Regions from separate parts of the Homo sapiens genome. Here region 1 is linked to region 2. The links come from fine-mapping of genetic effects on gene expression. A gene starts in region 2. The other region holds a variant in brackets. All regions are shown on one strand. Distances are from middle to middle.

The links.
Region 1: its variant is fine-mapped to the expression of PRODH in lung (TOPMed, PIP above 0.99).

The regions. Positions count from the first base shown.
Region 1 is chr22:18,972,853-18,984,570 of GRCh38, reverse strand. The region is part of intron 1 of DGCR5 (DiGeorge syndrome critical region gene 5); the gene reads right to left. Among named protein-coding and RNA genes, the nearest start is that of DGCR5, 8.2 kb to the right of the region's middle. The variant C/T (reference allele first, on the strand shown) is at 5,467.
Region 2 is chr22:18,929,858-18,940,378 of GRCh38, reverse strand. It overlaps PRODH (proline dehydrogenase 1), which reads left to right and starts at 4,086. Exons shown (of 14, transcript NM_016335.6): 1 at 4,086-4,364; 2 at 9,181-9,389. The coding sequence starts at 4,092. It overlaps LOC122455341 (a long non-coding RNA gene), which reads right to left and starts at 3,956. Exons shown (of 4, transcript NR_173080.2): 1 at 3,731-3,956; 2 at 2,912-3,027; 3 at 630-706. RefSeq lists enhancers at 1,020-1,527, 1,389-1,683, 642-1,706, a silencer at 1,389-1,683, a promoter at 642-3,856 and a cis regulatory region at 3,870-4,104.

The DNA.
Region 1 (11,718 bases), 44 kb before region 2:
CTACTAAAAATACAAAAAATTAGCTGGGCGTGGTGGTGGGCGCCTGTAATCCCAGCTACTTGGGAGGCTGCGGCAGGGGAATTGCTTGAACCCGGGAGGTGGAGGTTGCAGTGAGTCAAGATCACACCACTGCACTCCGGCCTGGGCAACAGAGCAAGACCATGTCTCGGAAAAAAAAAAAAAAAAAAAAAGACAGAAACCAGGAGGGAAAGCTGTTTACAGAGTCACACGTGGAGAACAAATGCCACTGGCCCAACTCGCAGGCTGGGACTCAAATTCCAGCGAGGGGATCCTTCCTGGTCTCTGGGGGCCCTGTGCAGACCAGAAGGTCTCGTGGGGGCCCTGCATGGACTGGAGGTCCTGTGGGGGCCCTGCGTGGATGAGACAACCAGGTTTAGTGTTGGGAGCAGGACACCAGCATGGGCTAGCCCAGTCCCACCACCTGAACAGAGGGGCTGTGATCCTCCAAGCTACCCAGGGAATGTGACACCTGGGTGCACAGCTCGTCCCAATGGCCAGAATGTATGGAAATCCAAGCGTGGTGGCTCATGCCTGTAATCCCAGCACTTTGGGAGGCTGAGGTGGGTGGATCAGGAGTTTGAGACCAGCCTGGCCAACATGGTGAAACCCCGTCTCTACTAAAAAATACAATAATTAGCCAGTGGGGGCGGGGGGGTGGCACGGGCCTGTAATCCCAGCTACTCAGGAGGCTGAGGCAAGACAATCAGTCGAACCCGGGAGGCAGAGGTTGCAGTGAGCCTAGATTGAGACGGTAACACTGCACTCCAGCCTGGGCGACAGAGCAAGATTCTGTCTCAAAAAATAAAAAAAATTAAATAAATAAAGAATGTATGGAAAACGTTAGCACAAATGGAGAAAGTTAGCTTAACCCTTGAGAGCAGGCAGGCAGGGAAAGGCAGGCCTGGGTGCCCTCCTGGCCCAAGTGGGCTCAAGAGGCCCTGCATACTCTGGTGGGGGGTGCTCTGAGGGGCAGCAGGGGTCCTGGTGGAGAGTGCTGGCAGGAGGACTCCCAGAGCCATGCAGCCTGGATGTGGGATCGGATCCTCTTGCATTGCCTGCTCTACTGGCTCAGAACCCAAATCCCTCAAAGTGAGGAGTCCCACTCACTGGGAAGCAGTTTTTGGTTCAGACTTCCCATGGACCCTGGGAAACTTCCTCAGTTGTCCTGAAAGCTCTGCAGGGTGAGACCACTCCTTCCCTCCCACCCCTGAGAAGGGCCTGCACACAGTAGGTGCTCAGTCCACGCACGAGAGCAGGTGACGCTGGGGCCCCTGGGGCTTAGCAGCCGGAAGCCCAGGAGTTCTCTGCCTGGTGCATGCGTGGCTCACCCTGGGAGCAGGGCTGGGGTGTGCCGGCTGCTCTCCCAGCTGTGGACGCTCACGCCCACCCTAGGTACAGGCTGGCAGGGGCTGCCAGGCTGGGGAGGCTGTGCCTGGGTTTTCCCTGGGGTAATTTCAAGTAAAGGGTGTTCTTTTCCTGTGCGCCAGTAGACGCTTTGGTCTCATTCATGAGGTTTGATTTTTTTTAAACATGCAATCCTACACTTTGGGAGGCCGAGGAAGGTGGATCACTTGAGGCCAGGAGTTCTTGATCAGCCTGGCCAACATGGTGAAACCCCGTCTCTAGTAAAAATACAAAAACACAGCAGGGTGTGGTGGCACACACCTGTAATCCCAGCTACTCCGGGGCTGAGGCAGGAGAATTGCTTGGACCCAGGAGGCAGAGGCTCTAGTGAGCCAAGATCGCGCCACTGCACTCCTTCCCGGATGACAGAGTGAGACCCTGTCTCAAAACAAACAAATACGCAATTCTTTTTTTTTTTTTTTTTGAGTTGGAGTCTCACTGTCACCCAGGCTGGAGTGCAGTGGCGCGATCTCGGTTCACTGCAAGCTCCGCCTCCTGGGTTCATGCCATTCTCCTGCCTCAGCCTCCCTAAGAGCTAGGACTACAGGCGCCCACCACCACGCCCAGCTATTTTTTTTTCTTTTCTCTTTTGTATTTTTAGTAGAGACGGGATTTCACCGTGTTAGCCAGGATGGTCTCGATCTCCTGACCTCATGATGCACCTGCCTCAACCTCCCAAAGTGCTGGGATTACAGGCGTGAGCCACCCCACCCAGACAGTTTGCTTGTTTTTTGAGACAAAGTCTTGCTCTGTCACCCAAGCTGGAGTGCAATGGCACGATCTTGGCTCACTGTAACCTCCCCCTCCCAAGTTCAAGCAATTCTCCTGCCTCAGCCTCCCGAGTAGCTGGGATTACAGGTATCCGGCCACCTCAACCAGCTAATTTTTGTATTTTTAGTAGAGACAGGGTTTCACCATGCTAGCCAGGCTGGCCTCAAACTCCTGACCTCAGTGATCCACCCCCTTCAGCCTCACAAAGTGCTGGGATTACAGTTGTGAGCCACCACACCCAGTCCCAGTCTTTTTCCTATATGTGATTTACATTGGTTTTCACAAAAAATTTATAGCTATTTTTTTTTTAATTTTTAAATTTTTTGTAGAGATGGGATCTCACTATGTTGCCCAGGCTGGTCTTCAGCTCCTGGTCTCATGCAGTCCTCCCACCTCAGCCTCCCAAAGTGCTGGGATTATAGGCCTGAGCCACTGTGCCACTGTGCCTGACCCTGCATTTTCACTTATTGTTACTTTTTCAGCACTCCTCCTTTAATTCCTAGTACCTGCTAAGACTTCTGTTGAAGCTCACCTGCTTAATTCCTCTTTGTGATTACACAATTTTATATTTTGGAAAGCGTCATTGCCAGGGCTAGGCATAGTGGTTCACACCTGTAATCCCAGTATTTTGGGGAGCCAAGGCAGGAAGATCGCCTGAGCTCAGGAGTTCAAGACCAGCTGGGCAACATAGGGAGACTCCATATCTTAAAAAAAAAAAAAAAAAAAAAGGAATGGTGGCACATGCATGTTGTCCCAGCTAGTTGTGAGGCTGAGGTGGGAGGATTGCTTGAGGCCTGGAGGTCAAGGCTGCAGTGAGCCATGATTGTGCTACTGCACTACAGCCTGGATGACACAGCAAGACCCCGTCTCAAAAAAGAAAAGAAAAAAAAAAGAAATAGGAAAAGAGTCATTGCCTGGGGTTCATTTTTTACTTTTTAAAGAGTGCAGAGTAGTTTTTAATGTATTTAAAACATTTCTGAAAATGGAACAAACTGGATAATGTTATTTTTTATTTGTTATTTTAATTAGGGGCATTTCTTCTTTCCTCCGTTAAGCATCAAAACTTGGAGACCAGATGGCAGATTTGCACCTTTACAACCAGAAGCTCAGGGAGAAGTTGAAGGAGGAGAACACAGTGGGTATGTTCAGATTGCTTTTGGGTACCTTGACCCAGCCACATTGTCTACCCTAGATTGGTGCTCATGGTACTTCTTGGTGGCATTTCAATAATAGGTTGAGTTGTATACCATCTCCCTTTACACTACATTATGAAAATGACATTATTAAATAAGAATTTTGATGGAGCTGATAAGCTAGTAGAATTGGCACATGACCCCTTTTATACCCAGCCCTCTTGTCTGGTGTGCTTGAGGTAATAATAACCCCTTTTATACCCAACCCTGCTGTCCAGTGTGCTTCAGGTAGGAGTGTCCTGGCAGATCCATATATTGACTAATTGCTACTGTATGTAGTACATCCTTAGACCACCCATATTCTAGCATGTGCAGCCCAGGCTTGTACTGATGCTCTGCTGAGGTCTGGCATTTAAGAGAAAGACAAACAGCTCCTTCAGGCCAAGGATCTCTGTCAACAGGCTGAAGAGGTGAGGGTGCTGAGCCTCAGTATGTGACCAAGTTTGGCTTCCACATGGTGATGTGCTGTGGCTTCATCCCACAGGTGAGTGCCTGGGTGAGGGTGTTCCCTGATGCTCTAATGCTGGTCACCCACTCATTTTTTTTTTTTTTTTGAGATGGAGCCTTGCTCTGTTGCCCAGGCTGGAGTGCAGTGGCGCGATCTTAGCTCTCCTGGGTTCATGCCATTCTCCTGCCTCAGCCTCCTGAGTAGCTGGGACTACAGGCACCCGCCACCACGCCCAGCTAATTTTTTGTATTTTTAGTAGAGATGGGGTTTCACCGTGTTAGCCAGGACGGTCTCGATCTCCTGACCTCGTGATCCTCCCACCTCAGCCTCCCAAAGTGCTGGGATTACAGGTGTGAGCCACCGCACCTGGCGGTCACCCACTCTTTATATGTGACAGAATGCCAGTCCCCTAGGCACCAGCAAGATTGACTACCTGATTTCTGAAAGCAGAATACAAGCTGTGATACCTGGAATGGGGAGAGCAGAAGCCGAGAGTCACTGAGCTGAGCCAGGCAGGCTCATGGGACATGCTGGGGCAGGCAGATCAGCATTCTAAGCAGAGGAAGCCTCAAGTGCAAAGGTGATGTTGCACAAGGCTCCTGATGAGTATGAAGGACTGGAGACAGTTGGGTGACAGGTAGTGTGCCAAGTCAGGGATTAAGTCCTGATTATCAGCTCCTCTCCTGAGGCCTTTACAAATTATTATTTATTTAGATACAATTGAGATATAATTCACATAAGATCCACCACTTTAAAGGGTAGAATTAATTGGTTTTAGTACATTCACAATGGTGTGCAATCATCACTGCTGTTTAATTCCAGAACATTTTTATTACCCTAAAGCAGAACCCATTAGCAGTCACTCCCCATTTCCCTGTTCCCTGGCCCCTGGCAACCTCTAATGTATCTTCCGTCGCTTTGAATTGACCTATTCTGGATATTTCATATGAGTGGAATCACATTACATGTGACCTTTTGTGTCTGGCTTCTTTCACTCAGGATCATGCTTCAAGGTTCTTCCATGTTGTAGCACGTATTAGAATGTTATTTTTTTATGGCTGAGTAATATTCCACTGTATGGCTAGGCCACATTTTTGTTTATGTATTCCTTTATATGGCTGAATAATACTGGGGCCTCTTGAACCATCACCTTTTAAACCTGTGAAGTTCCAAAGAAGGCTTTGGACAACCCAACTGCCCTGTGCTTCCCTCAAAGAAGCCATTATTGGACCATATTTTGGTTTCGTTAGGGACACAGTGCCCATTATATAAGAGCTAGTCCAGTTTAAAGCTACTGCTTCCCGAAGAGAGCATACTTTCAAATCTGTCTCCTCGTGGAAGCCCGTCCTGATTAGTTGGGTCCCTGCAGACAATGACCAAGCTCTCCCTGGCGCAGATGGAGGGTGAGTTCCCCAGCTGGAGGTCACTCAGGGCAAGATTCTCATGAAACCCAAGCAGATTTACGGTTCCCAGCCAACAGGCAGTCCTCACACTGGGCTCGCTAGAACTGCACAAGGAGTTTACCAGATTTACCAAGACCCCCGAGATCTCAACCACAGCTGGCTCCCCTGGAGTCACACAGCTGTCCGGAGCCAGTGAGCAGTACCATCCTCATAGTCCAGGTGAGGA[C/T]GGCTGGGTGTAGGTTGTGGTCCTGTTTTTCAGGTCAAGGGGTGCAAGTGGTGGGGTCTACAGGTCTTGGTCCTGTTGCTGAGGTCAAGGGGTACAAGTGATGGGGTCTACAGGACTTGGCTGGCCCAGCAGAGTGGTGTTTCAAAGAAATGAAGTGAAATCTTACCCAGAACCCCTGTGTGTGAAGCAGATGAGAAGCGGGCTGGTCTGTTTGGAGCACAGGTAGCCCCTCAATGTCCCTTCAGACTCCAGGATCAAGGAACCACCTCGGATCAGCTGCAGCCTGGCTAGGAAGGGTGAGGGGCCAGGGAGGACACCTGCCCTGCTTCCTGCGTGTCGTGCCTCGGACAGCACCAGGTTCCGGAGGCTTCCCACTCCTTGGGAGGGCTGAATGAGTCCTGGGGGAGTGTGTGCTGCAGCCACTCGGGGGCAGTGCTGAAGAGTGGGCTCCTCAGATGCCTGGGGCACTAAGGCCCACTGGAGCCACCAGCTAGGTCGGCTGCAGTGATTGCCCCATGCTCTGTACACTGCCACATACCAGGCACCGTTCTAAGTGCTTCATCGGACTCAACTCACCCACTTGCCCCAGCAGGTAACCAGGCAGATGTCACTGATCGGTTTTACAGATGAGGAAACTGATGTGCAGAGTGACACTCCTGAGACCGTGAAGCTTGTAAATGGGGCAGCTGGGTTTTGACCCTCAGTCTGGCTTTAGAGCACAGGCCCTGACCATGACACGGCCCTGCCCCTCTGTCAAGGGGAGGCCTGACCATTGGGACCAGCTGTGCACCCAGGTGGCACCTTCCCTGGGTAGCTTGGAGGATCACAGCCCCTCTGTTCAGGTGGTGGGACTGGGCTAGCCCATGCTGGTCTCCTGCTCCCAACACTAAACCTGGCTGTCTTCCAGAAAGAGGACAGAGCTCAGACACTGAGAGCTTGGGCAGGCAAATGGGAAATGACGGGAGGCTGCACGGTGCACCTCTGTGCCGGGGGTCTGACAGCCAGGCTGTGGGGAGGGGACCTTTCCATCCTGCTCTTGAGGTGCACACAGCACCAGAGGGTGAGCCCAGGGGCCGAGTCACCACAGCACCCATGTGCAGGGAGAGTCTCGATGGTGAGGGCCGCTGACCAGGACGGTCCTCCTCAAAAGAGTTTTACAAAATAACCCTTTGCATAAAATAAGCATTGTATTTTTCTCTGTTGAGGTGTAATTGACATAAATTGCACCCATTTAAAACGTATAATTTGGTACCTTTTGACATGTTTGTACCTGTGAACCTCTGACCACAGTTGAGGTGGTTACCCCCAAAAGGTTCCCCGTGCCCTTCCCTGCCCCGGGCAACCATTCTTCTATATTGTCACTGTAGATTAGTTTACATCTTGTGGAATTTAATCTAAACAGAAACATACAGTATGTACTCCTTTTTGTCTGACTTCTTTCACTCAGCATAATCATTCTGATATTTATCCATGTCTAAAATCCTTTGATATTCATCCATGATACACATCCACGTTGCATGTGTCAAAAGTCAATTCCACTGTATTGATATCACATAGCCTGTTTATCCATTCACATGTGGACAGACTTCTGGGTCATTTCCAGTTTTTGCTTATACGAATAAAGCTGCTATAAACCTTTGTATACAAATCTTTGTCTGGACAAATGCTTCCACTTATCTTGGGTAAATACCTAGGAGGGGAATGACTGTCATATGGTAGGTTCATATTTAACTCTTTAAGAAACTACCAAACTATTTTCCAAAGTGGTTGCATCATGTTATATTCCCACCAACAGCGTATGAGAGTTCCAGTTCCTCCACATCCTTCCTAACACTTGATATTTTCTGTTTTAAATTACAGCCATCCTAGTGGGTGTGAAATATTATCTCACTGAGGTTCTATTTTGCATTTCCATAATGACTAAAGATGTGGAGCATCTATTCAGGTGCCTGTTTGCTGACAAAATGTCTTCTTTGGTGAACCATCTGTTCAATTATTTTGCCCAATTTGTGAATAGGTTTTTTTCTTATTATTGAGTTTTGAGAGTTATTATTTGTATATTTAGGATATAAGTCTTTTACCAGATATATGATTTGCAAATAGTTTCTCCTGATTTGTTGTTTGTGTATTCTCTTGAAAGTGTCCTTCAGAGGCCAGGCACGGTGGCTCACGCTTGTAATCCCAGCACTCTGGGAGGTTGAGGTGGGTGGATCACTTGGGGTCAAGAGTTCAAGACCAGCCTGGCCAACATGGTGAAACCCCATCTCTACTAAAAATACAAAAAAATTAGCTTGGTGGTGGGCACCTGTAATCCCAGCTACTCAGGAGGCTGAGGCAGGAGAATCGCTTGAACCCAGGAGGCAGGGAGGTTGCAGGGGCCAGCTGTGGCCACAGGCTGGGGACAGAGGCCAGGTCTGAGGCTGGTCCTCAGTGAGGAGTAAAGGGGATGGACCGGGAGACAGGGTGCAGGTTTGACACTGATTTTGCTTTTGGGGATGGGTCGAGGGAAGAGGCTGAGACTCTGGGCTTGGACATTGGGTACGGAGGATGTGACACTAGCAGACAGGCTGGATCTGGAGGCCTAAGGTGTGCAGTGTGGGGAGCTGTGTGTGCAGGAGAGATGCAGAGCACTAGGGAGCCTGAACCCCTGCTCCAGTGCACAGGCCTGGCACACGGCAGGGAGGAGGCAGTCACCATTCCCTGACCCGCCCGGGCCTGGGAGGCAGGGCAGAGCTGGTGACGGGCCAGCGTGGGGCCTTGGAATGACATCTGGCATGTGGCGGTGGAGGGGGGACATGTAACTGGGGACTGTGGACTCCCAGCTGGAATCCACCTCCACCTTCCACATCCACGCACTGCCTTTTGGTCTTTACTGAGCACCTGCTGTGTGCAGGGGCTGCTCTAGCCCCTGGGACCACCAAGGGCCAGCCCTCCGCAACCCCAGCCCTGCATTCAGCCCCCACCCACTTCCTCCAGAGCCCCACACCCCACATACTGAGGACTCTAGGCGTTTTCCCACTCTTGAAGGCACTGAGCTGGGAACACCACCTCTGGCCACCAGCTGTGGACTGCAGAGAGGCCTACGGTGACCAGGAAGGGTGGAGCTGCCCAAGGTCATACAGCAAGCCGGCACTGCACAAGCTGATCCCATGGCTGCCCAGCCTTGGGGAATGGGGGACTTCTGGCATGTCCCCGAGCTGGCCTCATCTGGGCCCTGGTAGAAGGCAAATAAAGGCAACATCTCAACAAGGTTGTGATAGCTGGGACAAATTGAGGACACAGTGCCGGGGATCCAGGCAAGCAAGGGACAATCCAGGAAGGCTCCCAGGAGGAGGTGAGGGGCCTGAAGCCCACCCTGGCCTGAGCCCCTCCTCGGTACTCTAGCCTGCCTAGCCCTACCCGCTTCCTCGACGGGCCCCTCACCCAGCCTCAGCCTTGGCCTGACATTTCCCGTGACATTTGCTACAAAGAAATTGAGTCATAAATCCAAAGGTTAAATTTGCACATCGCCTCAAACTGCTGGGGGAAGCAGTGGTCCCTCCACCCACTGGGCGCCCCGTGGGTGCGGGGTTTGTGTGGCAGGGTCTACCCATCCTGGGGCACTTGCTGGAGGCCCACAGGTCTCCTCTGGTCCTCCGAGGCACTTCAACCACTGTTTCCCAAAACAGGTTCCTGGGCACACCAGGCCCTGAGGTACATCGCATAGGGGTGCCTCTCAGAGAAGGTGCTGCCCACCCCTCTCCAAAACAGAGCCCAAGATGCCCTGCGGGAAAGGAGCACCATCAGCACCATTTATTCCAGCAGGTCCCACATTTGACCACAAAGCCCTTATGTGATACCCCCAACATTCCAAAGAATTTCAACTCCATGGACCGTGACCCGTGACAGCCAGCTAAGAATGCCAGGGTGCCGACTGGAGAGCCAAGAGGCACCCGGGGGCCCAGGGCAGGCTGCTCTGAGTGAGGCTGGGTCAGCACCTGACACTTCACTCCCAGATCAGCCCGGCTCCATGTGCCAGGGCCCTGAATGGGGCTTACCGCCTGCCAGGCCTGTGTAGAACTACATGGGGACCCTGGCCTGTGCCCACTCAGCCTCTCCTAAGGCCACTCTCGAGGTGTGCCAACAGCCCTGCCTTTCTTCTCCACCTCCTGGTCTGGCTGCCGTGGGTTGCCTCCATTGGACAGGACACAGCTGCAGAACAGTGTCAGCATTACCCCATGCCCCGCTGCCCTGCTGCCCCGCAGAAGAGGCCCCGCAGGCCATAGCGGGCAAGACCAGAGGCTGTGTGAAAGAGGGAGAGGAGAGGCGGCCCCAAGGCACCCACTGCACAAATGGATGCCCAGACTCTACTCACTCACCATCACCCACCCGGCCAGCCCACGGTTGTCAAAGGCCTCAGCTGGCTAGGAGGGGCGGGATCTGGCCCTGCTGCCGAGTCCCCTGAAATCAGCTCAAGCATCAGGGGAGAGGCACGTGACCAGCCCCTAGACCTGGTGGGTGCCAGCTGAGGACATGGTGGGGTGGGTGTGCAGAGCTGCATCTCCCGGTGCCCAGCTCCACGGCTGCAGGCAGTGCAGGAGGCCGGTGCAGGTTTGGATAAATAAATGATGGTGCATTCTCAGGAAGGGATTCCACACACACCAGAAAACCCACGATGCACAAGAATAGTTCCCGATGTGCAAAGTGTTTAAAATACAGCGATAAAAGAAGAAACGGCAGCACAGAACAACTGGTGTGGGGAACCCAGCTGGGCCCCAGGGACAGTGCAGGGAGATTTGCAGGGTGGGGTAGCATGCCCGCCACTCCGATCGGGCTTCCCCGGGGCCACTCTGTTACCTCCTATCCTTTAAAGCATTTAATCCTAGAGATGCACGATGCCAAGGATTGCACCCCTTGATTTGCCTGGCTCAGAAGAGAATCTGACAGGCTAGGAACGAACAAGCAAATGAATGAACAAATGAGAAAGTGAACGGACAGTTGGGGCAAATGCAGCATCTGGGATCTGGCTTCGAGGAGGGTGCCTGTGACCTTGGCCTGGGTGCAGCCAGGCTGCAGAGCAGGGACACTGAGGGGTGCAGAGAGGGCCCCGAGAGGGCATCTGCACAGCTGCAGAGGCAGCAGGCAGCCAGGCCGGCTCCTGCAGACCCCAAAGCCCAGGCCCTGGGTGGCTGCAGAGGGTCAGGCAGGCCAGCCTGGGGATCAGAGGTCAGGCTTGCCAGAATGGGGGCGGGACGGCATGAACCTCATTGATCAGACAGTAGCCAAGCGTCGGGAGCCCTCACTAACCCTGTGCCAGGGCCGGGCAGGGCGCCTGGCTCACACATGCATTTGTTCATTTCCAGGTCATCCTGAAACTCCCCGTATGCTTCCTGTTCTTGACCCCTTTCCCAGGTGCACAGACCAAGGCTCCCGGTGAGAGGTTCCGGGCCACAGGCCCAGGACAGCAGGAGGGCTCCTCTGCCTCCCACCCGTCCTGTCCTCACCAGCTGGACCCTCCTGGTGTTGCACCGGCTGCACAGGGCCGTCCGTGCCACAAAGCATGAATTCAAGGCTGGGGCAGGGACGAGGAGAGGGCAGTGCTACAAGGCTGCACTGTCCTTGGGCAGAGGGAGGCGGAGGGCACGGTCCCACATGCCCTGGCCCTCACAGCCTGCCTGTCACTCACAGCAACAGCAAACAAACCCCAGCCCCTCCACAGGCTGTGGGCCAGTCCCCAGCCTCCCAGGACAACAGGACCTTCCCCCACCTTCCAGGGCCCCAGCCCCTGTGGGGGTGTCCTCCATAGACCCTCCACAAGCCCTCTGGCTTTCAGAGACCTGCTGGGCCAGGCCCTCCCTCAACCTCTCCCCTGCTTCTCACTCCATGCAAACCTACGTTTCTGCCAGTCCCAGTGGAAGGACCCTGGCACAGGGAAACTGAGGCTCAGGGGTTCCACAGACCCCCAGGTGAGGAACAGGGGGAGGGCAGGGAGGGAGTGAAGGTACTATGGGAGGGTCTCCCAAGCTGGGCAGCATCCCTGCCCTGTCCCCTCTCCACTCACCTGTGGCCTGAGTTGCCTGACTAGGGGCTTTTATTGTCCCTTCTGCAAATGGATGGGGTGAGGGGCCAGCTGGCCATGCAAAGGTCCCAGGAGGACTCTGCTGAGTTGGGGTGTGGGGAGGTGTTCTGGGCATTCTGAGGCAGAAGCACCAGAGTCGGAACTCCACAGGGAAAGCCGGGCCAATTCCGCCCAGCCTCAGCCTGGAAGTGCCC
Region 2 (10,521 bases):
CTGCTTTTGAGGTTGTAATGTTACGGGCACCTGACCTGCTGGAAGAGGACTTGTCCCTCGTGGTTTAGACTCTGATGGCCCCACTAATTCTGGACCTTTTCCTTCTAATTTTAACGTTTCAGGATATATCACCTCCTGTAATTGATTATAGTCAACATTTTGCGTTGACTGAGCCATTACCGGCTCTGCTACATATTCGCAATGTAAACTTTCCGTTTCTTTCTGGGATTTTTTCCTTGTCTTTTCATTACAATCTATTAAACAGCTTCCAGGGGCATCAGAAACTGAAACGCTATCTTCTTCTGTTTGAAATGGTTCTAAAGCTGCTTTAATAATGGCCCAATCATTCCATACTGTAAGTGGAATGATATTACCCTTCCTACCTGCTTGTTTTAGTTCCTTACCAATTCTTTTCCAATCTTTTAGATCTAAAGTTCCTTGTTCTGGAAACCATGGGCAAAATTGTTCTATTATTTGAAATAGCTTGATTAGATTTTTTGTAGATACTTTAACTCCCCCTCTTTTTAAAAGAATTTTAATAAAGCTGAGATAAGAGGCATATTTACTTTTAATTTTACTTTTAGTTTGCCCCATTATCACCCTAGCTTCTTCCGAGCGCACAAGCTTACCGTAAGGCTGACTGTAGACGTACTCGGGATCTCTCGTCGACTTGTCCTCAATGACCACGCTCGAGCGTACCTTCACCCTAGAGAAAAGCCTCCATGTTGGGCACCAGATGTAGGGGTGGGTTGCCCCTACACACCTGTGGGTGTTTCTCGTAAGGTGGGACGAGAGATTTGGAAAAGAAAAAGACACAGAGACAAAGTATAGAGAAAGAAATAAGGGGAACCGGGGAACCAGCGTTCAGCATATGGAGGATCCCGCCAGCCTCTGAGTTCCCTTAGTATTTATTCATCATTTGTGGGTGTTTCTCGAAGAGGGGGATGTGTCAGGGTCACAAGACAATTGTGGGGAGAGGGTCAGCAGACAAACACGTGAACAAAGGTCTTTGCATCATAGACAATGTAAAGGATTAAGTGCTGTGCTTTTAGATATGCATACACATAAACATCTCAATGCTTTACAAAGCAGTATTGCTGCCCGCAGGTCCCACCTCCAGCCCTAAGGCGGTTTTTCCCTATCTCAGTAGATGGAGCATACAATCGGGTTTTATACCGAGACATTCCATTGCCCAGGGACAGGCAGGAGACAGATGCCTTCCTCTTGTCTCAACTGCAAGAGGCATTCCTTCCTCTTTTACTAATTCTCCTCAGCACAGACCCTTTACGGGTGTCGGGCTGGGGGACGGTCAGGTCTTTCCCTTCCCACGAGGCCATATTTCAGACTATCACATGGGGAGAAACCTTGGACAATACCTGGCTTTCCTAGGCAGAGGTCCCTGCGGCCTTCCGCAGTTTTTGTGTCCCTGGGTACTTGAGATTAGGGAGTGGTGATGACTCTTAAGGAGCAGGCTGCCTTCAAGCATCTGCTTAACAAAGCACATCCTGCACCGCCCTTAATCCATTTAACTCTGAGTTGACACAGCACACGTTTCAGAGAGCACGGGGTTGGGGGTAAGGTTATAGATTAACAGAATCTCAAGGCAGAAGAATTTTTCTTAGCACATAACAAAATGGAGTCTCCTATGTCTACTTCTTTCTACACAGACACAGTAACAATCTGATCTCTCTTGCTTTTCCCCACACTGGGTAACACAGCCAGACCCTGTCTCCACAAAAAAATATTTTTTAAAAATTAGCTAGGTGCAGTCCAGCCTGTAGTCCCAGCTACTTGGGAGGTTGAGGCAGGGGGATCACTTGAGCCCAGGTGTCAGGCCTCTGAGCCCAAGCTAAGCCATCATATCCCTTGTGACCTGCACGGATACATCCAGATGGGCTGAAGCAACTGAAGATCCACAGAAGAAGTGAAAATAGCCTTAACTGATGACATTCCACCATTGTGATTTGTTTCTGCCCCACCCTAACTGATCAATGTACTTCATAATCTCCCCCACCCTTAAGAAGGTTCTTGGTAATTCTCCCCACCCTTGAGAAGGTACTTTGTGAGATCCACCCCTGCCCCCAGAACATTGCTCTTAACTCCACTGCCTATCCCAAAACCTGTAAGAACTAATGATAATCCCACCACCCTTTGCTGACTCCTTTTTTGGACTCAGCCTGCCTGCACCCAGGTGAAATAAACAGCCTTGTTGCTCATACAAAGCTGGTTGGTGGTCCCTTCACAGGGACACATGAGACACCAGGAGTTCAAGGCCACAGTGAGCTGTGATCACATGGCTGCACTCCAGCTTGGGCAACAGAGAGAGACCCTGTCTCTTAAAAAAAAAAAAAAAAAAAGCCATCAGCTGGCTCAGGGTAGCCACCTGCCAAGGGTCCCCAGCTGAGCCTAAGACCTGCTTCCTAGGATTTACAGAGCTCCTGTGAAACTCGGTTGTTTCATTGATTGTCACATGGAGCCAGTGACTTTCAGGCCAGCCTTGTTCCCACAGGTGCCCTCACAGGTGGGCTCTCCCGTGGGCCTGGGCACCCAGCGCTAGGCCTGCTCTGCTATGGTCTGGACGTGAGTGGTGATCTCTGTGATCCCTGCACCCCTCGCTTCTCCCCCTGCCCTCTCTGCAGCCCTGCCCCTGGCAGCCCCTGCCCACCTTTGCCTCTGTGCAGGGCCACAGGCTTCCTTGAAGCAAATGCTAGAACTTTGCTTTTTTAAAAAAATATAACAGCTTTATTGAGATATTGAATGGTTTTTTAGTCTATACACAAGGTTGAGCAAACATCACCACTCTCTAGCCCCAGAGTATTTCCGGACCCCAAAGAAACTCCGTGGGCCTTGGCAGCCCCTCCCACTCCTCCCGTCCTCCACCTCCAGGCACCACTGCCAGTGCCATACTCACCAGGCTCCACTATGGGCTTGTCTTCGTGTGACTTCTGTCTCTATCGATTTGTCTATTCTGAACTCTTCATATAAAACGAACCATACAACTTGTGGCCGTTTGTGTCCGGAATCTTTCTTTAAAAAAAAAAATTCACCGGGCGTGGTGGCTCACGCCTGTAATCCCAGCACTCTGGGAGGCGGAGGCGGGCGGATCACAAGGTCAGGAGATCAAGACCATCCTGGCTAACACGGTGAAACCCCGTCTCTACTAAAAACATAAAAAATTAGCCAGGCTTGGCAGGCGCCTGTAGTCCCAGCTACTCTGGAGGCTGAGGTGGGAGAATGGCGTGAACCCGGGAGGCAGAGGTTGCAGTGAGCTGAGATCATGCCACTGCACTCCAGCCTGGGAGACAGAGCAAGACTCCATCTCAAAAAAAAAAAATTCACTTTTATTTTTGAGACAGGGTCTCCCTCCATTGCCCAGGCTGGAGTTCAGTGGCACAATCAGCTCACTGCAGCTTCAACCTCCTGGGCTCAAGCAATCCCCTCACCTCAGCCTCCTGAGTAGCTGGGATTACAGACATGCAACACTATGCCTGGTTAATTTTCTATTTTTTGTAGAGACGAGGTCTTACTATGTTGCCCAGACTGCTCTGGCACTCCTGGGCTCAAAAGATCCTCCTGCCTCGGCCTCCCAAAGTGCTGAGATTACAGGCGTGAGCCACCACACCCGGCTATTTTTATTTTTTAGTTGACACATAATAATTGTACATATTTGTGGGGTACGTAGTGATGTTTCTGTACGTGTATAGTGATCAGATAAGGGTAATTAGCATACCTATCATCTCAAACATTTATTATTTCTTTGCATTACGAACACTCAATATTCTCCTTCAAGCTATCTGAAAATACATAATTTTTGTTTTGAGACAGGGTCTCACTCTGTTGCTGTCTTCACGGAGAGCAGGAGCAGAGGCTTTGAGAAGCCAGTGGGCCTTGGCCTCAGCCCTGCCGGCAGAGGGTCCCCACCATGCAGCTGAAGTGCCAGGGTGCTTGTGAAGTCTAAGCCCTTGTCTGGCATTTGTCAGGAATATAGGGTGAGGCCTCTGGGACCGAGCGGGGCGGGGCGGGGCGGGGCGGGGCGGGGCGGGACCAACAGCGCACACTTAAGCGGCCCGGGCGGGTACCGCCGTCCCGCCATGGCTCTGAGGCGCGCCCTGCCCGCGCTGCGCCCCTGCATTCCCCGCTTCGTCCCGCTGTCCACGGCGCCGGCCTCCCGCGAGCAGCCCGCAGCGGGCCCAGCGGCCGTGCCAGGAGGTGGGTCGGCCACGGCAGTGCGGCCGCCGGTGCCCGCCGTGGACTTCGGCAACGCGCAGGAGGCGTACCGCAGCCGGCGAACCTGGGAGCTGGCGCGGAGCCTGCTGGTGCTGCGCTTGTGCGCCTGGCCCGCGCTGCTGGCGCGCCACGAGCAGGTGCGCGGGGTGCAGGCGGGGGCGCGGGGGCTTCTGCCGGTCCCGGGAGCCTTTACGGAGCTTCCTGGCCTGAAACGGGTGCCTCCCAAGCATCTCCTGGAGCAAGGGAAGCCAGGAAGGGAGGCGTTTCCTGCAGTCCCTCTCGGACCTCGCAAATTTTCCTATTTGTCGATGTCTACCAACTAAAAACAATGGTCGTTTTCATATTTACGATATATACCACTTGTGGGAATACAGAGTTATCACTTGGAATTTAAAATGGAGTATTCTTCATGTTGAGACAAGAGAATCCTGGTGTAGGGCTCATAGCCTGGAACCCCGGAATTCAAACCCCGGGACCCAGCAGCTTCCCAGACACGGCCACTCTGAGAACACTGTTGGGGAAAAATGGGAAGCCCCTCAAACGCCCAGCTTTGAACTCACCCATGGTAGCTTTAAAAAGTGTCAGGGCTTTTGGTGGCGGTGGTGGGGGGCAACAAGCAGAACACTGTTTTAGCCGCATCAGCCTAGGGGTACTAGAGATGACGGTTATCTCCAGGTGACCCTGGGAAGAGTTTGCAAGGTTCCGCTTTTTGGCGCCAGGGTATCTGGTGGTGTTGATTTCTCAGGTGAGACTGTACAGAGGTCGGGGGCTGCACCCCTGGCCTCAACAGGAGGCGGGGGAAGGCGGGGGACGGTGTCAGATGAGAAGCACCGAGCCACAGTTGAGCTTAGGTGAGGCCTCGGCGGGTGCGAGGTGAGGGCAGGGATCCACGAACTCAGAGTCAGATGCTGTTGGCCCGAATCCCATGGGGAGCGCCAAGGTCAGCCTAGGACCCGTGGTGGCGGGAGTGCGGAGGATGGTGGAGGAAGAAGGAGCTGAACTGGACAGATGGAGGGCTCTGGGAGGGCATTGCTGTGTGTGCACACAAGGATGTCTTAAGGTCAAGTTTTGGTCATAGAGAGCCCCGGCCAAGGAGACAGGAGGGCGAGAAGGGACATCCCAGGTAGAGGAACTGGCAAGGTGAGGGACGGCGATGTGGAGGCTTTGGGGAGTGCCCACATCTAAGGGGCATCCCAAAAGAGGAGCCAGTGCTGGTGGTGCTGCAATAGGAGGAGGAGGCAGCAGGGCAGAAATGCCAGGGGAGGGAGTGGCCAGCCACAGGTCCCTGCCCAGGGCAAGGACGGGCATGCTAGGTGGCAGCTGGGGCCAGTCGTGCAGAAGCCATGCCCACCTTGTGGCCGGGATGGAGTGGGGACTAGGAAGGCACCAGGTCAGGTTTCTGTAGGCACAGCCCTAAGCATGGCTGGGATGGGGAGGGGGCTAGGAAGGCACCAGGTCAGGTTTCTGTAGGCACAGCCCTAAGGTTTCTTGTCTAGATTCAAGACAAGTTGTTGCACAGAGAAGCCAGCAGAGCTGGGTGTGGGGTTTGGTGCCCAGTCTGCTGCGGGGAATGCCAGGTGCTGTTCCGTGACTGTGGGAGGAAACTGTTGGCTCCGCTGTCCCTTGGGTGCCTTCTTGAGGCAAGTGCCAGGGCTCAGGGATGGTGCTGTGAGTACCTGGAAGAGGCAGGGCATCCAGAGGTGACCTCTCCCAGGCTCCCCTAGGGTCCCACCTGTGCCCTGGGAAGTCCCTCAGTGGGGTCTGTACTGTTGTCTTGCTAGTGGTCCCATGGGTGTCGGCAGCCTCAGCACTGGAAGAAGGCAGAGGCCAGGTCCTGGGCTTGTGAGCTGCTCACTAGAACCTGGTCCTGTGAGCGGGCCAGAGGGGAGTTCCTTCCCTCACCCTCTGGGCTGTGGGGAGATTCCTTCTGCTGAGCCAGCACAGGTCTGTGAGGCACCCGGGCAGTGAGGCCACATCTGCCACAGGCGTGTCAGGTTGTAGTAGCTGATCTTTGAGCTGCTGCCTTGGATGGGGACAGCAGTGGGGCCCGCCCTTGCCTGAAAGCCAGACTTATTGAGGAGGGTTTAGGAAAGTCCCAGGATTTCCATGACAACAGCACTGAGGTTGGGTGTGCGCCCTCACAGAAGGGACAGGACCCGTGGTGACAGTGGTTCCCTGAGTGGGGGGAGGGGAGAGAACCGGCTCTACCAGTGTTACTCTGCACACATTTGGTTGAGTCTTTCACAGGGGGTACAAGTGTATGTGTTACTGGTGCAGGTTTCTAAATCCTCGAAGGATCTCCTCACCTGAAGAAGATGTGGGGCTGCCCTGGTCTCAGGTAGTGCCATGCGGGGACATCAGTGACACCAGGATGGTGTTAAAGTGGTTGCTTTGCTGTGGAGTCAGCTTTAAAATTACAAGCCCTAGGCTCATGCCTAGGCATGGTGGCTCATGCCTGTAATTCTAGCACTTAAGGAGGTCAAGGCAGGAGGATCATTTAAGGCTAGGAGTTCAAGACCAGCCTGAGCAACATCGTGAAACCCTGTCTCTACAAAATATTTTTAAAAGTTAGCTGGGGCCAGGTGCGGTGGCTCATGCCTGTCATCCCAGCACTTTGGGTGGCCGAGGCGGGTGGATCACCTGAAGTCAGGAGTTTGAGACCAGCCTGGCCAACATGGAGAAACCCCATCTCTACTAAAAATATAAAAATTAGCTGGGCATGGTGGTGTGCGCCTGTAATCTCTGCTACTTGGGAGGCTGAGGCGGGAGAATCGCTTGAACCTGGGAGGTGGAGGTTGCAGTGAGCCGAGATTGTGCTACTGCACTCCAGCCTGGGCAACAAGAGCAAAACTCTGCCTCAAAAAAAAGAAAAAATAAAAGTTAGCTGAGTGTGGTGGTGCATGCCTGTAGTCCCAACTACTCTGGAGGCCGAGATAGGAGTGTCGCTTGAGCCCAGGAGTGAGACCCTGCCTCTAAAAATAAATAAATAAAAAACTTGCCAGCCCTGCCTGTGTGCTTCTGCAGCCCTGTGCAGGGAGCTTCCACCCTCAGCCCGGGCCCAGTCCCCCAGCCCCCCATCTTTGTGAATAAGCATCCCTGGAGTCAGTGCAGCCTGGGCTCCCGCCCCTTCATTTAGTGCTGGCCGTGCGGAGGCGAGCAGTTAGGTAGAGGGAGACTGCGTGGCCCCGTGCGGCAGTCGACAGTTGCCCACCCTCCCTCCTGTTGTTTTCTGATGGTTCTCTCAGAGCGGATGTGGATAAGCCCAGTGATGGTGTTCAGGTCCCCAGTTCTGCCCCGCCTGCCACTTGGGTGATCTTTGATATGTTTCAGACCCATCCTGTTCTCCCAACTATCCCTGGGTGCTGCCAGCAGGAATGAGGCCTGGCTCAGGCTCAGTGGGAGACGGAGAACATGTCAGCCTGTTCATTTTCCAGTTTCTAATCCTCTTGATAAAAGAACAAAATGCCTTAAAGTCAGATTCTGCTTGGAGGCTGCAGGAAGGCAGGGGTGAGTGCCTGGGAAACCCTGGTCCTTGGGGCTGCCCCATGGCGTGCCCAGGGGTGATGGTCAGGAGGCGTCTCCATGGGGCACCAATGTTCAGGGTAAGGCTGTGGGGCTATGTCTGCCTGTGGGCAGGCGTGTGGGTGCTCAGGGCTGGCTTGGGTGTAAGTGTTTGACTCGCTAATGGTTTTGCTTAGACTAGAAGTTGTTCCTGAAACTACGGTCTCAAGAGATGCTCCCCACATAAAAGGAGTTCTAGTATCCATTGGGTTTGAGAAACCCCAGGCTCTTCCTGTGTTGGGGCTGAGTCGGCAGGGGCAGCAGACACAACGCGGAGGTGTGCTTCTGAGCATCACACTCGGCCCTCCTCTCCAAGTAGCCTCTCGTTGTCCCTGTCCTTTCTGCCCTGGCTGTCCCCCGTGCTGGAGCTCCCACAGTTGTCCATGCCATCTCCTCGCCTTGGCAAGCCCCACTCCTGGATCTGGGTTAGTAAACACCCCTGCCCTACCCTGCAGGCACTGCCCCATCCCCCTGTCCTGAGTCATAGGCAGAGTCCCTCCTTCCCCTTTGGGGTTCCTTTACCACCAGGATGTGAGATCCTGGTCGGTTTCCTTTGGTTGTTTCCAGTCTATAAAAGGTGCTTGGTGCATGGCAGCTTGGGACATCTGAATGAGCGACGTGGTGAAATATGATTGGAGGAGACAGACAGTTCCCGGGCAGCATCTGTCAGAGTGGCTGGTCAGCCCCAGATGACCCTGCAGAGCGCATGGGTCCTGGGGTGGGAGTCATCTCACAGGCCCCTGTGGACTGTCATCTAGCTCATTGTCCTTGTTGCCAGGGCATGCCTCCCTCCAGCTGGGCGCAGACTCAGCCTGAGTTTCACACGTTTGTTATTTAGCATCCATTCGGGGGCTGGCCTCATGCCAGTCACACTGTTTAAGGGACTTGGGATAAGAGGGAACAAAACATTGAAAAATCTGGGCACTCAAGTACTAGAAAGTCAAGTTAGATCCTCCTCTTCCGCAGCAGAACTACCAAGGTGTGGATACAGAGGATGGTCTCAAAATGCCGGCTGTCATCCCCAGGGAGGCTGGCCATTCTCCTTTTTATCCACCAAGCAGTGGTCAGGCACCCACTGTGTGCTGCTGGAGTGACTCATGGGTGGGGCCCTGAAGGGGCAGAGTCCAGGTGGGAACAGTGTCCTCAGGCCAAGCAGGCAGCACCTCCTGTGGTCTCTCTGCCCTGGATGGGAACTGGAGTGATGGACAGGGTGGAGAAGCAAGCGGCTTTAGCTGGTCTTCACCATGAAACTGACCCTGAAAGCCCAGTCGCCAAGAGACCATATCGAGGCCCCATGGCTGGGGTGAAGTGTGGTCGGGGATGAGCAGCGGTGCCTTGCTGGGAAAGGAGAGTTCAGGCAGCCCAGGACAGCGGCTTCCCTTTGCCTTTCAGCTGCTGTATGTTTCCAGGAAACTTCTAGGACAGAGGCTATTCAACAAGCTCATGAAGATGACCTTCTATGGGCATTTTGTAGCCGGGGAGGACCAGGAGTCCATCCAGCCCCTGCTTCGGCACTACAGGGCCTTCGGTGTCAGCGCCATCCTGGACTATGGAGTGGAGGAGGACCTGAGCCCCGAGGAGGCAGAGCACAAGGAGATGGAGTAAGGCCTGCCCGGTGTCTGCGGGCTTTCTGATCATGACCCTGGAGCACCCAGTGGGAGCAGGTGGGATGTATCCAGCTGCTGGGCTTCAGCCTCAGCTGGGCAGAGGCCAAGGCTAGGAGAGCTTGGTCAGCCCAACTACCGATGACCCTCCTGGGCTCTGCCTGGAGTTCTTGCATTTTTGTTTCATGCGGTGGACAGCTCTGGGCTTTCATGGGAGGCCTGGTGTGCGTGAGGCCTGAGGAAGCAGAGTACAGAATGGCCCTTGGCCCTATCTAGTCCACCGCCTGGAGGAGCACAGGCACCAGCATATGAACCAAGCACTCTGCAAAGAATGGTTGGTCTCGCCTGGATCTCACATGAGCCAGGGACTGCTCCAGGAAGTGGAGGGAAACGTGGTCTTGTTGTTCTGTCCTGATGCCCTGCCCAGGAGGGCGGGTCAGGGTGGTACCAACTGCCCTCTACACTCACTGCCCAGGGAAGGGGCCTTGTATCAGCTTAGTGGCCTCCAGGAGCTGACTCCAGGCCGGCCTGCTACACTGCTCCTGGCTTCAATTCCCTTCTCCACTGACAATGGGGCAGGGGCCAGGCCTGGGAGGTTCCACAACTGCAGGGCAGGCTGAGGCCAGGCAAGGGTCGGGCAGTGGGACCTGCCTGCGGGTCAGGAATCCCTGCAAAAGAGAGGCTGTAGCAGAGCCTCCTCCATCAGGTCAGCAAGTTTGTGTAAACAGCCAGGTAGCACAGACTCTCAGTCGGGCCACACCCTCCCTGCCACAACGGCTTCACTCTGCCTCAGTAGGGCCATAGTAATTAGAATTTCATATAATTTTCTTGTGTCACAAAATATTATTCTTGTTTTGATTTCTTTCAACCAGTTTTTTTAAAGTAGGGTCTTGCTCTGTTGCCCAGGCTAGAGTGCAGTGGTGCCATTGTTCACTGCAGCCAACCTTCTGGGCTCAAGTGATCCTCCCATCTGAGCCCCCTAAGTAGCTGGGACCACAGGCACGCACCACCATACCTGGCTAAGTTTTAATTTTTTTTTGTAAAGATGGGATCTCCCTATGTCTTCCTATGTATTTGGGTCCCCTGCACCCTGACAGCAGCCGGGCCTGACCCACATAAGGCTTGGGAC